Linked DNA regions of Homo sapiens: region 1 is linked to region 2. A link means that fine-mapping ties the variant in region 2 to the expression of a gene that starts in the linked region. Tissue or cell type: whole blood. Region 2 holds a variant in brackets; the other region holds the start of a gene. All regions are shown on one strand. Distances are from middle to middle.

Region 1 (8,180 bases), 37 kb after region 2:
CAGCCTCTCTAGGATGGGGAGGTTCCTGGATGCACCTGACCAGCCCAGGGGCCTCCCTTTCTCTATTCGGGGTCTGTCCTGTTGCCCATGTGTCATGCTCAGCTACAGGTCCAGCTTTCAGATGCGGGTGAGGGGAACCACAGGCCTATGATGATACAGTCAGTGGCCAATGGGCCTCTACTTCCCCTACGGGGGGCTGTCCTCCCAGCACCCTGCCCCCAGCGTCAGAGAGTGAGATCCACCTCCACCCTCTTCTGCCCTTCCCATTCCTAGGGAGGATGATCCTCAGGCTGAAGATCCCAGGCAGCTGGCACTCCTAGGTGATGTTCACTAAACTGGCTACATGGGCGATGGGATTGCCAGAAAGCAAAAGATCAGAAATTTGAGCCTGAATTTCTGGGCAAATGCTTGCCTCAGTTGCCTTCGATGTTGAGCAGAGAGGAAGTGGCTTGTCCACCCCCAGAGAGGGATGGCTTGAATGAACAAACAGAAGGCACTTCTGTAGTCAGATGTCATGTTCGTGTTTAAAAATCTGTCGCCAGGAGGCCCTGGCCTCGGCATCCACCCTCCTGGGATTAGGGAGCAGGGGCAGGGCCAGCGTGATTAGGACGCTTGGTTTCGCCAGCGTCATCTGCCCGCCCCACTCACATTCCTGTGTGTATGAAAGTCGTCTGGGGGGGCTTTAGCAGCCCGGAGTCATCCCTCCTAGGCTAAGGAAGGCTGAGCTCTGAGTGCTGGAGGCTGCCCAGGCACCCTGGCTGCTGAGCCATCCAGCCCAGAGCCAGGCCACCAGCAACAACAGGGAGGCTCCATTCCTGCTGGGCTGTAACTGGATGCCAGCATGCAGGGATGCAGACCGAAATATCCAAGTAACGATAGCAACTGGGATCCGTGCGAGTGGATGCATCTCAGCAACCTAAGCAAAAAGTGCAGCAAGGACTTCTCAATGAGACAACCTCCTCCGCCTTTTTGGAATGTTACAGGATCTGGACCCTTCAACGAGGTCTCCATGCAGTGCCCTCATGGTCTCCAGGGCAACTGTACCACCCCTTCTCTCTCCTAACCCTCCCTCAGCAGACAACCGTTTTTTGTTTTTGTATTTTTTTGAGACGGAGTTTTGCGCTTGACACCCAGGCTGGAGTGCAGTGGCATGATCTCGGCTCACTGCAGCCTCTGCCTCCTGGGTTCAAGTGATTCTCCTGCCTCAGCCTCCCAGGTAGCTGGGATTACAGGTGTGTGCCACTATGCCGGCTAATTTTGTATTTTTAGTAGATACGGGGTTTCGCCATGTTGGTCAGGCTGGTCTTAAACTCCTGACCTCAAGTGATCTGCCCGCCTTGGCCTCCCAAAGTGCTGGGATTACAGGCGTGAGCCACCACACCTGGCCCAGAGAACTGTTAAGAACTGTTATTCTAACCACAGGCTTCCTCCTCCCAATTCTCTCTCCTGAACTGAGGACCGGGAACCCCACTTTGACAGTTCCTGATCTCAAGTTGAGGAATGTGCTGGCGCCAGGAGGCAGCATCTGGGCTGTGGTTTCTGTTTTGTCGAGTGAATACCAAAACAGATATAATCCCAAATACAAAATATGTGCAGCTGGAGGATAAAGATTAAAACCCAAGAGCCAAAAGAACTTCTTTCTCAAGTTCCGATTCTCCCAGCATGTAGGTCTGTAGACAGAAGCGGGGGAATGAGGAGGCCTAATGGAGGGATGCCAGTTCTCAAATTCAGGAGCACCTTGACAGTGAGAATAATGCCAGAACACCAGCAGAGCAGTGCTGGGCCAAGTTCAGCTACTTTGTGATGAAAACACTGCTGCCCACCTGTGCTATGTCACCTCTAGAGTTAAGCAGTGGTCAGCCAATCAACAAGTGGAAATTGACAAATACTGTGCCATGAGTTTAGACATCAGACCTTCTGGGTTGCGCAACCCCTTCCATCCATTCCCCAGCCCCTTCAGCAGTCCCCTTGTCCTTCAGCTGCCTCTCTGTTTGTATCATCTCACCCTTTCTACCCTGTCCCAACTGCCTGACTGGCAAACTTCACTGTCCTATCTAGGAAGAGGCAAGTCACTTATATTTTCTGGGCATCAGTCTCCCCCTCTGGGAAATGGGTATGAAGACATTGGAAGAGTCTCCTGAACCGTGGTTAATTTGTGCCAAGAGAGGCTGGGCTGAAAGGAGGTATTTGTCTTCTTATGTAATGTGGTATTATATAATGCTAGATTGCATATCTATATGTGTAATTATATCTGTCTTTAAGATACAGACTGGCCCAATTCAAGTGTTAGAACTCTTAGTCTAATCAGGCCTGTCTTAAAGGAGGATCCTGTCCTGGAGAGAGTGTGCCAAGAGTAATATAATTTTTGCCCTAGGATGTTGCTGATGTTGTATCATTGCTGATGTATGGTGATACAGCCCACTCATTGCTGATATATGGTGATACAGCCCATTCAGTGAGCCTCTCAGCTTCCCCTCTCCCTCCGGCTCTCTCTTCTTCCCTGACTCCAGACTCTCCCTCACAATTGCCTCATCCCCACTCAATCAACCTCCATAAACTATGACCTCCTCACCACCCAGCCCTGGGCATCACAACCCCCAACTCACTCCTCTTCCATGACAATCGCAAAGTCACTGGCATGTGTTCCTTCCATCCCTGTCCCATGATCCCTGTGCCCCTCCAAAAACAGCCTCCTGCCCACCGCTCTCCCAGCTCTTTGTACTTGGTGCAAGCCAAAACCCAAGGTGTGCTGAAATTAGCTACAAACCTCGTGCTCTCCCAGTCCCACCCCCACACCCCTACACACACTCTTTGCAGAGCTCAGAAAGGGCCCCTTTCCCTCCCACAGCTGATAGGAGGCTTGTTCATCTGTGGCTGCCCTAGTCTGGTTGTCAAGGAAACAACAGAATCTCCCTGGGAGCCTGGCTTGTCTCCTAGCAACCAGTATCCCACATCATCTTACAAAATGGGAATGGGAGGAAAATCCTGAAAATGAAGGTAAAATCAAGGGAGATGGATTGAATGGAGAATTGGAAGGAGAAGAACAAAGAGAGAGTGGACTCCTAATTCGGGGAGGCTCCCACGGGGGTCGCTGGCATTGCAAGAAGCCCCGTGCAGATCCAACAGAAAGCAAGGCCCAAAGGGACCCTGAATGGTCAGATTAAAGAAATGCAAGCCTAAACACAGATAAGCCCCCTCAAACCTAAAATGTGGACACATCACCAAACACCGCCAAAGATCTCCCCAGTAGTTTCACAGAACTCAGTTACATAGACTGCAATGGAGTTGAGTTCAAAGAACCAGCTCCGGAACCGCCAGCAAAACACCCCAATTCCACTGTTGTTTTGTGTTTGTTTTCTTAACAGAATCACTCCCACCACTCTGGACCGTTTTTCCTTTTTTCTGACACGCTACTCTGCACACACACAAAATAGAAATTTAAAAATTTTTAAACATCGAGAAGGGGGAGGGGCACGACAGGCCGAAGCAATCAAGTCATCTTCCTTTCCCTAGAAACACCGGAAAGGATTAGGCTCCAGCCCCGCTGTACCCAGCAGCCGAAGCCAGAGCCCAGGGACTAGCGGGGCCCGGGGAACGTAGCGAGGGGCGCGGCAGGGCAGGGAGGGCGGAGCGGCGCGTCTGCAAGGGCTGCTGGCCACCCCGCCATAACCGCAAGCAGCCATCTACTTACACCACTACATGTGACGGGGTGGCTTCTAGCGTGAGGAACACATCTCTTCCTGCTGAGCACGCTCATTTTAGTGAAATGTCAGGGGTCCCTCCGCGCCTGCAAGTTGGGACGACGCCGGCGCCGCCGCGCTGCTGCTGGGCTCCAGCCTCCCGGCCAGCTCGCGGCCACTCAGAAACTCCGGCAGGGCAGCCCAGGCCGGACGTGGGCCCAGGAGCGGACGCGCGCGCTGCACTGCAGCCGCTGCCCCTTCCGGATCAGCATCGCCCCGCGCGCCAGGCGCCCAATGTCACGGCGGCGCGCGGAGCCGGGCTGCGGAGGCAGCGGGCGGCGCGCAGGGGCGCCGGGAGAGGGGCGAGGCCGCCGCCGCTACGCGCCCGGGCCCGCGGCGAAGGCGCTGCCGCGAAGACGCCTGGCGCTGCAGTCCCAGGTACCGCTCGCGACCTCCTTTTTTCATTCACAAAAAAAGGATAGGGAAAAAAAAAAGAAAAGAAAAAAACGGGAGGGTAAAAAAAGGAGGAGAAAAAAATCGCACCCAAGACGACAGCCGTGACGGGCCCCGCCCACTGCCGCGCGCAGTTGGTGGAAAGCGTTCGGGGGGCGGGGAGGGGGCGGGCGGGGGAAGAAGGGGATTGGACGCCCCGCAGATCCCGCCTCGCAGCACCGCTCCCGCCCACCGCCCGCGCTCTTCCGCCCCTCCCGCAGCGACGCCGCGGGGAGGGTCTCGGCTCGCGGGTCTGGGTGGCGCCGGTCCCTCCACCTGGCGAGGCGCAAAGGCTCTCCGGACGCCCACGGGGTTTTCCCCTTTCCTTCGGGAGGCGGGGGAGAACCTCTGAGAGGCATCCTAGTGCACCCTGGAAGGGATGCTAGTTGGAGGAGAACGTGTGGTTGTAAGCCCAGGCCCCCACCACTTGCCCACGGGGAGGCGACGGCAGGGGCAGTCGGGGGGGCGGGGGGCGGGGGCCGGGTAGGGACGAATAACCGGCGTTTCCATACAAGCCCTCTGCTGCTTTGGGAATTTTCGTGGCACTTGAGAGCCTTCCTCCCTCCATGGCCCTTAATGAGTTGTGGGGTGGGTACCTGTACCACGTTACCTGTCTCCCACCTAGGCCTTCTTCAGCGGGTCCCCACCTCCATCCCATCCCCCTCCTGTTGCCTCCTGGAGTTCAGTAATAGCTGCTAATCTCTGAAAGAAACACCATGAAGTGAGTAGCCTCGAAAATCGTCCCTAAGCCTTCTTTGGGTTTTCTGCCTCAATTTACCCCTCTGTAAAATAGAGAGATTCTAAGGTATAACATCTATAACCTGAGGGGTCCCTAGAAGACACTTTCCATATTCAAGGCTGGTTTTATCAGGATAATCTTTTTTTTTTTTTTTTTTTTTTGAGTCTCCCTCTGTTGCCCAGGCTGGAGTGCAGTGGTGCAATCTTGGTTCACTGCAACCTCCGCCTCTTGGGTTCAAGCAGTTCTGCCTCAGCCTCCCGAGTAGCTGGGACTACAAGTGCACGCCACTATTCCCAGCTAATTTATGTATTTTTGGTAGAGACGGGGTTTCACCACCTTGGCCAGGCTGGTCTCGAACTCCTGACCTCGGGTGATCTGCCTGCCTTGGCCTCCCAAAGTACTAGGATTACAGGCGTGAGCCACCATGCCCAGCCAGGATGATCTTGACTGCTAGTGTTAAGTAGTCAGCTCAGTCTGGTTTGATTCATCTCCTCAGTTACCTCTGGACAATTTTTAAAGCCCAGACCAGCCTGCCACCCACCTGAACCGCCTCCACCACTCCTCCATCTTGTGCTCTGAAAATGCAAATCCACTCTAATATTAGTTTATGCAAAATATGATTAGGAAGAGAAATTTACTGCCAAAAGAAAGCCGGGTTAAAAATGAATTTTGTGTTGTCTGAAGCATGCTTCTCATCTGTGAATGCATATACTTGGAAGCTGTCCCTCAAGGTGTTTGTGATCAACGTGCCTACCTACCTGGTCAATGTACAGGAAGTGCTCGGTTGTTGGAGGATGCTTCTCCCACCCCTTTCTCAATCTACTCAGAGCTAGCCAAGAGGTTAACAATGACTGACAGTGCTACTTACTTCTCATTTCTGGTTAGAACTCACCCTCCATAAACCAGAAAGTACTTATTTGAATACATATTTAGGAGAGAAAGTAAACCATGCTCACACATGTTCTTCCTCCACATGTTTGGCATTGAAGAGACTTACCCCATCTTCTGTGTGCCAAAGAGCCCCTGCGCCAGAGAAAATCATAACTTGAGATCTCTGCATGATTCCCACGGCAGGCCAGGGTCTCTCCCACGGACACCCTGTTCCCTCCACCCACCTCCAGAGACCAGCTGAATGCCAGATGCCAGTTGACATCACCTTTCACCTGTCCTGGCAGGACCATAGCCCCTGTGGAGCAAGGAGTAGGAAGACAGAACTCCCGTCCACCCAAAGTCATGAAGCAGGAGAGGGTGGCTGCTCGGACTGTAAGCTAGAGCCAATGCCCTTTCTGCCTTGGGAGAAAAAGCCAGCTCAGCCTGGAAGCCTCAACCAGGCTGGACTGTGTGAATTCCAAGGTGTAGTGTTGATTGGGGTGGAAGGGTCTTGGACAAAAATGTGGGTGTCAAATGAAATTGCACCCCCACAGCCCCCGCCCCGCCCCGCTCACACTCAGTGAACTGTTTCAGGCAGAGGCAGGAGCTTTGCTGGGGAGGTTCCCTCAATTCCCAGCCCTGCTTTTTGCATGCAGTTCCCTCTTTCAGCCTTTCTCCAAATCAAAGTCCTTCCCCATCATTTCACCTCTAGGGCTGTCATGGTTGGCGCCCCAATCAGTTCCCTCTTATCATCAGAGTTCCTCCAAGTCCCCACCTTCTCCTACCAGTGCCCCCCAGCCCATCCTCTGCAGCCCCTTGTCACTGTCAAGCCGCCCCATCCATGTCCCACCCTAGGCCGTCTGGGGACCTCTGCAGACCTCCTCCTCAGGCCAGCCTGCGAGGAGCTCCAGCGGTTCACTACTCACAGCTCAGATGGCAGCATTCCCCACGCTGTATGAGGGGCAGACCACTAGCAAGCTGCAGCCGCCGGCCTGTGCCCCAGTTGTGGCTAAAACCAGGCCTCTTCCCAGCCAGCCCTGGCCAGGACTGCCCCGGGACCCCCACTCTGCTATTCAAGACAGCCTCCAGCCCCTGGTACCCCAGCTGAGGATCTGGCACGTCCCTTCATCTTTGCCCATCTCTCCAATGCCAGATCCTGGAAAACAGGGCCACTCCCAGAGGCCAGGCTTCCCCACCAGCAAGCAAGGTGCTGTTGGGCCTTCTCATGCCCATCCCTGTCCCCAGCTGTTAGCACCCGGCAGGCAGCAGCGTCTCACAGCACAGGAAGCCTCCCACTCCCTTCACTGCGCCCTCCCACCCCAGGCCCTGAGGAGTCCATTTTCCTCTATTCAGGTGACTTCTCAAGGCAGGCCTGGGTGGGAGACAAAAGCTCCTGGCCTCTTTCTTTCTCTGCCTCCTCCATTCCGTTACATACACAGACACACAGACACACACACACACACACACACACACACACACACACACACACACACACACACACACACACACACACACACACCAGCCCTCTCTGCCCATTTGCTGCAGCTTGGAAACACTGGTGTGATTCCGAGGAGCAGTTCAGCCTGAGCACTGACTCCCCCCATTGCTGGCTTCCCAAATCTGCTTCTGCTGGTGGGTCTGGCAATGTCCTGCCATGTGCCTGGCTGCGTGGCTGTAGCCCAAGGGCTTCCTGGCAGCATGGAGGCAGGTTCCATTCTACAATCTCCTGCCCCTGCCCAACCCCAGCATCTCTTCCCTCACCAAATCCCTCTTGTGACCCACCTCCCCAGTGACATAAACCCCTGGAACCTGTCCCCAGAAGGCACCCCCTCTATGCCTCCCCACACCACCCTCCTCCAGGCCATCACGCGGCTGCTGTTTTCCTGAAGCCGGGCAGATGCCTGCCTGTGAACAGGAGGCTTTTCTGGGGAAAGAGAAACCTCCATCCTGGCTCTTAGCAAAGCGCAGCAGGCTCCCCGGCCAGTCCCACCAGCGTTGCTCTCCCTGTGGCTGTGAAGGCCCCTTCCCAGTGCCAGCCCAACGCAGACCGCCTGGCTCAGTCCATCCTCCAACCTGCACCTTCCCTTTGCTTCACAGGCAGCTTTACCCTTCAACACTTTGCAGGCTACTAACCGCGCTTTCATGGCACCCCTCTCCTGGAACACTACAGCCTCTGCGGAGCCCACCCCATGGGCCTTGTGACATGAGCTCCGCCCCCCATCCCCTGCCATGTGCAGGCTGGGGCACGTGGTGTTCCTACCCTGCAGCTGGGGCAAAGTTCAGAACCAGCCATGAGCAAAAGCAGAGGCATTTCAAGATGCAGAGCCCCAGCAGGGTGAAGGAGCTGAATCTGGAAAGCCTAGAGTCTCTCAGCCTCCCTGTCCAGGCCTTAAGGGACA
Region 2 (8,180 bases):
ATATATTTAATAAATATATATTTTGTATATATATATTTAATAAATATATATTTTGTATATATATTTAATAAATATATATTTTGTATATATATTTATTAAATATATATTTTGTATATATTTAATAAATATATATTTTGTATATATATTTATTAAATATATATTATATATATTTAATAAATATATATTATATATATATTTAATAAATATATATTTAAATATATACTTAGTATATATCTTAAAGATACATATCTTAAATATATATATAGATATATATATATTTTTTGAGACAGGGTCTGCTCTGTCACCCAGGCTGGAGTGCAGTGGTGCGATCTCAGCTCACTGCAGCCTATGGCTGCTGGGTTTAAGCGATTTTCCTGCCTCAGCCTCCTGAGTACAGGGAGTAGCCACCATGCCTGGATAATTTTTGATTTTTAGCAGAGACAGGGTTTTACCATGTTGGTCAGGCTGTCTCAAACTCCTGACCTCAAGTGATCCACCTGCCTCGGCCTCCCAAAGTGTTGGGATTACAGGTATGAGCCACGCACCTAGCCTAAAACTTATTTTCTTACTGGTTTCCTTGAAGATTACAATTACCTTCTTAAGTATCTAAACAGGTAGTTTTATAATACCGGCAGAATTTCATTGCAATCCAAATACTGTGCTCCTGTACCACTCCATCTCTCCAGCTTTCTATTGTTGCTGTCATAGATCACATCCTTGCACGTTGTGTGACCACTGACGTCGATCTTAAGGACATGTATGTGTATGGAGCAAGGTTGACTTGTGATGGTTGATTTTATGTGTCAACTTGGTTACCCAGATACTTGGCCAAATATTATCCTAGATGTTTCTGTGAAGGTGTGTTTGTTGTTGTTGTTTTGTTGTTGGTTTTAGATGGGATTAACATTTAAATCAGTGGGCTTTGAGTCAAGCAGATTACCCCCTTAATGTTGGCAGGTCCCATCTAATCAGTTGAAAGCCTCAATAGAAAAAAGACTGACCTCCACCAAGAAAGAGGGTGTTCTGCCAGCAGGCAGCCTTCAGACCTGAGCTGTGACTCTTCTCTGCTGGCCTATCCTGTACCTTTTGAATTTGCCAGCCTCCACAGTTATGTGAACCAATTCCTTAAGATAAATCTTTATCTCTCTAGAGCAGGGGCCCCTGACCCCCAGGCCATGGACCAGTACTGGTCCGTGGCCTGTTAGGAACCAGGCCACACAGCAGGAGGTGGGCTGTAGATGAGTGAGCATTACTGCCCGAGCTCTGCATGCCGTCAAATCAGCGGCAGCATTAGACTTCATAGGAGCGTGAACCCTATTGTGAACTCCACATTTGAGAGATCTAGGTTGCGCACTCCTTATGAGAATCTAATGCCTGATGATCTGTCACTGTCTCCCATCACCCCCAGATAGGACCATCTAGTTGCAGGAAAATAAACTCAGGGCTTCCACTGATTCTACGTTATAGTGAGTTGTATAATTATTTCATTATATGTTACCATATAATAGTGATAGAAATAAAGTGCACAATAAATGTAACATGCTTGAATCATCCTGAAACCATCCCCATGCCCCCAACTCCAGTCCGTGGAAAAATTGTCTTTCAGGAAACCAGTCCCTGGTGGCAAAAATGTTGGAGACCCCTGCTCTAGAGAGCCCTGACTAATACAGAATTTTTAAAGATTTGAAATTCTTTTAAACCATACTTGATCTCCAAGTAATGGAAATAATAAGATTATATTTCCACCTAACATAATACAGCTATCCTGTATACAACTGAAAACGCACTAACCCTTTCTCCAGAAGAGGATGCAAAGTTCTTGAGTGGTGTTTACTCCTTTCCTTGATACCCTGGAACATAAATACTATAAAGTGAACAATACTTAAATACTATGATATAAATTCAAAATATCTTGTGTTACATAACAAGGGGATAAGAGAAGGAAGAAAACACAGATATTCGCTTAACATATATTTACACATAAACACACACACATAACACAATAAGGAAGAAATACTTATAATGATTACAGTCCTTATTTCCATAGCTGGTCATGTCATTGTAGCTGGTATTTATAAGAAGCTTCTTTCGCTGTGCATTCTGTATTCCCTGTGCCCTCACTAAGCACCTCAGCTGGTCATGGCTCTGTGCCTGGTAGAGTGAACTAACCTTTATTCCTGAAGGGTCTGAGCTATAAGTGGTCCTGCTTTAATAGGGTCGTGGTAGTTTTCCATTGACTTTACTCACAGGGCATGGTAATACTAAGAGATGCCCTAAGGAATCTCCTGTATTCTAGACATCCTCTTCCTTACGTCCATTGTGGAATAACAGTCCAATTTTCCCTTCAATTTCCCCTTTGTGTTCAGAATCAGTCAATCCAGCCAGCAGGGTTTGTGTAACTGGTTTTCGCCTGTTGATTCAGAGGCATGAGGAACCCAAAGTGGCCAAGTGGCAGTCTTCAAGTTACACAGAATCACTGTTGTGTCTCCTCATGGAATCATTCCTCCCTCTGAAACTCAGAGCTCTAGCAAAGCATAAAGCAGCAAAAATTTTGATAACAGGCCACTAAGGGTAATGTGGAGTGGGGCCATTCCTGCTTCCACCCCTAGATTCCTGGACACATGAATCCTAGCAATGGAAGAAGCAACCGCATGTATTGGAGGATAATTCAGAGCATAGACAGTCTCCTGGAGAACCTTGTTGCAGCCCTTCAAGGTACTGCCACCCAGCTGACATTGTAAATGAGTTTTCAAAAAGCCATATCCCACCATCTTACCAAGCCAGCAGTTTTGAGATGGTGGGGAACATGGTAAGACCAGTAATTCCATGAGCACAGGCCCATTATAGTGGGCGCTTCATTTGCCATCAAGTGAGTCCCTCAATCAGAAGCAATGCTGTGTGAATACCATGACTGTGGATAAGGCATTCTGTGAGTCCACAGAGGATAGTTTTGACAGAAGCATTGCATGCAGGGAAGGCAAGTCTATGTGCAAAATAAGCTTCTCTTCCAGTAAAAATGCTGCCCCCTCCATGATAGAAATGGTTCAGTGTAATAATCAACCTGCCACCAGGTAGCTGGCAGACTGACCCTCTGAATGGTGCTATATCAGAGACTCAGTGTTGGACTCTGCTGCCTATAGATTGGGCACTCAGTAGCAGCTGTAGCCAGGTTGGCCTTGGTGAGGGAAGTCTGTATTGTTAAGCCCATACATAACCTCCATCCCTGCCACCATGCACACTTTGTTCATGAGCCCATTGAGTGATGACAAGGATGGCTGGGAAAGAAGCTGACTGGTAGTCACAGAACAGGTCATCCTATCCACCTGATTATTAAAATCCTTCCCTGCTAAGATCACTTTTTGTGAAGATATTTGTGTCACATGGGGCACAAATATCTTCATGGTTTTTTTACCCATTGAGAAAGGTCTATCCACACACCTCTTCCCCAGACTTCCTTGTTATCAGTTTTCCTTCAGAGCCTCTGACCCTCCAGCCAAATCATTGACCACAGCTCATGAATCAGTATATAACTACATGTCTAGCCATTCTTCCCTCAAGCAAAATGAACAACCAGGTGTACTGCTCAGAGTTCTGCCCAGTGGCAGGATCTCTTTTTTTTGAGACGGAGTTTCGCTATTGTTGCCCGGGCTAGAGTGCAATGGGGCGACCTCGGCTCACTACAACCTCTGCCTCCCGGGTTCAAGTGATTCCCCTGCCTCAGCCTCCCAAGTAACTGGGATTACAGGCATGTGCCACCATGCTCGGTAATTTTGTATTTTTAGTAGAGACGAGGTTTCACCATGTTGGTCAGGCCAGTCTCGAACTCCTGACCTCAGGTGATCCACTCACCTCGGCCTCCCAAAGTGCTGGGATTACAGGTGTGAGCCACCACACCCGGCCTAGCGGATTTCTTTTCACCACTGTCCTTCAGGGACGTCCCAGACAGTGGATGTGATGCTGCAAACATCCACTTCTAAGGGTTACCTGTATGTGGTGCAGAACCATCTGTAAACCTTCTTCTGGCAACTGACCATAGGGAATTCCTCATGAGGCCATAAGTGCAGGCCAGGCAAAAGAAAGTAATATTGCAGGAGTGGGGATCATGGGCACTTGGGCCACTTCTTCATGTAACTTTCTTGTGCCTTCAGGGCCTATTTAAGCCCAATTTTGTATATATACCAATTACATTTGAAAATGGAAATGGAAACTTTAGGCTGTATGTGCCCAAACTTATGGCTTGGTAGGCAAAATAACACTCAGTTCACGATGAGCAGTCAGGTCGTAGAGTAATTTGGTGGCCTATGGTTAACCATTCAGTCTGCACTAAGGCCCAGAAACAAGCCAAGAGCTGTTTCTCAAAAGGAGAGTAGTTATCTGCAGAGGATGGCAAGTCTTTGCTCCAAAACCTAAGGGCCTGTGCTGTGGTTGACCTAGAGTGGGCTACTAAAGGTTCAAAACAGCATTGCTGTCTGCCACCAATACTTCAAGCACCGTTGGGTCTGCTGGGTCGTATGGCCCAAGTGACAGA[A/T]AAATGTCTACGGCAGCCTGGACCTGTTGCAGAGCCTTTTCTTGTTCTGAGCACCACTCAAAACTAGCACATTTTTAGGTGACTTGATAAATAGGCCAGAGAAACACACCCAAATGAGGAATATGTTGCCACCAAAATCAAAATAAGCACACTAGGCATTGTGTCATTTTCTTGGTTGTAGGGAGGTGGGGGTGGCAGATACAACAATTTATCTTTTATCTTAGAATATCTTAGAAGAGAAGGAATATCTTATGTGCCACATCATTCAACAACTAGGAATTTGTTTCCCAGTTGTTGTCCTTCTACTGAGGTAAAAGGCCCTTGAAATTTTGTCAGATTTATTTCCCACCCCCTGACATGCAAATGTCTTACCATTAAGTCTAGAATAGTTGCTACTTCTTGCTCGTGAGGTTCAATCAGTATAATGTCATCAGTATAATGGATCGTCTTGTGTGTTATCTTGTGGAAGGGAAAGGCCATCAATATCCCTGCAGGCCAGATGTGGTGGCTCGCGCCTGTAATCCCAGCAGTTTGAGAGGCCAAGGTGGCTGGGTCACTTGAGACCAGGAGTTCTAGACCAGCCTGGCCAACATGGTGAAACCTCATCTCTACTAAAAATACAAAAATTAGTTGGATGTGGTGGCACACATGGGTAATCCCAGCTACTTGGGAGGCTGAGGCATGAGAATCGCTTGAACCCAGGAGGTGCAGGTTGCAGTGAGCTGAGATCATGCCACTGCACTCCAGCCTGAGAGACAGAGCAAGACTCTGTTTAATTAAAAAAAAAAAAATACCTGCAAACTAAATTATGACATAGGGCTGCGAGTTGATGCATCCCGGAGACAGGATAGTGAGGGTATATTGCTGGCCTTGCCAACTGAAAGCAAACTGCTTCTGGGAGTCTTTATTGACAGGTATGACCAACAAAGCATTTGCCAGTTCAACACCTGCATACCAGGGTACCAGGGATGTGGCGATTTGCTCAAACAATGAAACCATATCTGGGACAGTTATAACTGGAATCACCACCTGGTTAAGCGTATGATAATCCACTGTCATTCACCAAGATCCATCTGTCTTTGGCACAGGCCAAATAGTCAAGTTCAATGGGCATGTGATGGGAATCACCACAGATGCATCCTGGATGGTGGTAATGATCTCTGCAATCCCTCCAGGAATGTTGTATTGCTTTTGTTTTTTTGTGCTTTACAGGCAGGGTATCACTCTGTCACCCAGGCTGGAGTGCAGTGGCACAATCATAGCACACTGCAGCTTGAACTCCTGGGCTCAGGCAATCCTCCTGCCTCAGCTTCTTGAGCAGCTAAGACTACAGGCATGTACTGTCATACCTGGATAATTTTGTATGTGTGTGTACAGATGGAGTCTCACTGTGTTGCCCAGGCTGGTCTTAAACCCCTGGCCTCAAGTAATCCTCCTGCCCTGACCTCCCAATGTGCTGGAATTACAGACATGAGCCACCATGCCCATCTGGTATTGCTTTTGATTTACTATTTTTTTTAAGTAAATGCAAATCTGGTGGCTTCCACCTGGTCTTTTCCACCATAATAGTCTTCACTTCACATGTCAGGGAATGAAGGTGGGGATTGTGCCAGCTGCTGAGTATGTCTATTCCAATTACACATACTAAAATGAGGAAATCAGACAGGATGGGTGTGGGGACCCACTGGCCCCTTTCTGAGATGGACTTGAGCTTAGTTTGAGTAATGACAACATAACTTCAATGGTATGCAAACACTGTGCTCCTGTACTTCTCCGTCTTTCCTCCTCCATCTTGTTGTTATAGATCACATCCTTGTACATTGTGTGCCCATTAACATCAATTTGTAATTATTGTTTTCTGCATTTGCTCTTTAAATCATATAAGTAAATAAGAGGATTTACAAACCAAATGTACCATAATACTGTGCTACAGACTGAATTGTGTCCCCAAAATCATATGTTGAAGCATTACCATCCAATGAGATGGTATTTGGAGATGGTGCCTTTGGGAAGTAATTGGGTTTAGATGAGGTCATGAGGGTGGGGCCCTCATGATGGGATTAGTGCCTTTTTAAGAAAAGACCCAGACAACTTGCTCTCTCTCGCTTGCTCGCTCTCTCTCTCCCCCCCTCTTCTGGTGTGTGCAAGGAAGAGGTTACGCAAATGCACAGCAAGATGGTGGCCATCTCTAGAACTATGATAAATAAATGTCTATTGTTTAAGCCACTTGGTCTATGGTATTTTATTATAGCAGCCTAAGTAGCTGCGTACCAGCATTTATATTTACCTAAATAGTTACCTTTTCCAGGGTTCTTTTTTTTTTTTTTTTTTTTTTTTTTTTTTTTTTTTGAGACGGAGTCTCGCTGTCGCCCAGGCTGGAGTGCAGTGGCGTAATCTCGGCTCACTGCAGGCTCCGGCCCCTGGGTTTCACGCCATTCTCCTGCCTCAGCCTCCCGAGTAGCTGGGACTACAGGCGCCCGCCACCTCGCCCGGCTAATTTTTTTTTGTATTTTTAGTAGAGACGGGGTTTCACCGTGTTAGCCAGGATGGTCTCGATCTCCTGACCTCGTGATCCGCCCGCCTCGGCCTCCCAGAGTGCTGGGATTACAGGCGTGAGCCACCGCACCCGGCCTCCAGTGTTCTTTATCTCTTCGTATGCCTTTGAGCTATTATCTAATGTCATTACATTACCTCCTAAAGGATTCCTTTTAGCATTTCACAGGGCAGATCTACTAGTAATGTGCTCCATTACCTTTCATTTATCTAAGAAGGTCTTAATTTCTTCTTCATTCTTGAATGATAATGTTCCTGGATATCAAATTCTTGGTTGCAGGATTTTGTATGCTTGTGTTTTTGTTTCTTGGCACTTTAAATATGTTACCCACTCCCTTCTGGGCTCTATGGTTCCTGGTGAGAAATTAGCTAATAACCTTATTGAGGTTCCCTTGTACATACTGAGTGGGCCACTTGCTACTTTCAGGATTTTCTGTTGGTGTTGGGCTTTTGTCCATTTGACTATAATGTGTCTCAGTGTAGTTCTCTTTTAACTTATCCTGCTTGGAGATCATTGAGTTTCTTGGATGTGCAGACAAATGTTTTTTAAAAGTCTTGCACCTCCTTGTTAAATATCATTCCTAAATGTTTTATTCATTTTTATGTCATTGTCAATGAAATTGTTTTCTTAATTTCCTTTTTGGATTGTTCTTTGCTACTGCAAAACTTTTACGCTGAAAACTATCAAACATTGCTGTAAGAAATTTTAAAAAAGCAAAATAAACAGGAAGATATTCCATGTTCATAGATCAAAATGGTGTTAAATTACCCAAAGCAATATACAGATTCAATGAAATCCCTACCAAAATCTCAGTGGTGTTATTTTAAAAATGGAAGAACTTATATTCAAAGTCGTATGGAATTAAAAAGACTTATTGACCAAAAACAATCTGGTAAAAGAAAAGCAGAGTTGGCGGGACTCACACTTTCCAATTTTGAAACATATCCTCATTCCAGGGCAGCTTTAGTCCCCTTTTCTTTGGATCATTCTTTGACTCTATAGAGATTCCTCCCGTTTTCTTCCCATGGCTGATGGTGTGAGCTTTAATTTTGAAGGCTTTTCCCATTGTTGTATGACTTCTGCTCCTGGTGTATCTTC

Evidence for each region. PIP is the estimated chance that this variant, and not a neighbour inherited with it, causes the effect.
Region 1: RHOBTB2-AS1 starts here. The variant in region 2 is fine-mapped to the expression of RHOBTB2-AS1 in whole blood (TOPMed, PIP above 0.99).

What each region holds. Positions count from the first base shown.
Region 1 is chr8:22,995,617-23,003,796 of GRCh38, reverse strand. RHOBTB2-AS1 (RHOBTB2 antisense RNA 1) reads left to right here and starts at 3,992. Exons shown (of 2, transcript XR_007060857.1): 1 at 3,992-4,118. It overlaps RHOBTB2 (Rho related BTB domain containing 2), which reads right to left and starts at 4,249. Exons shown (of 10, transcript NM_015178.3): 1 at 3,692-4,249. RefSeq lists an enhancer at 1-42 and silencers at 3,540-3,589, 3,920-4,089, 4,310-4,569.
Region 2 is chr8:23,032,283-23,040,462 of GRCh38, reverse strand. The region is part of intron 2 of TNFRSF10B (TNF receptor superfamily member 10b); the gene reads left to right. Among named protein-coding and RNA genes, the nearest start is that of TNFRSF10B, 33 kb to the left of the region's middle. The variant A/T (reference allele first, on the strand shown) is at 4,529.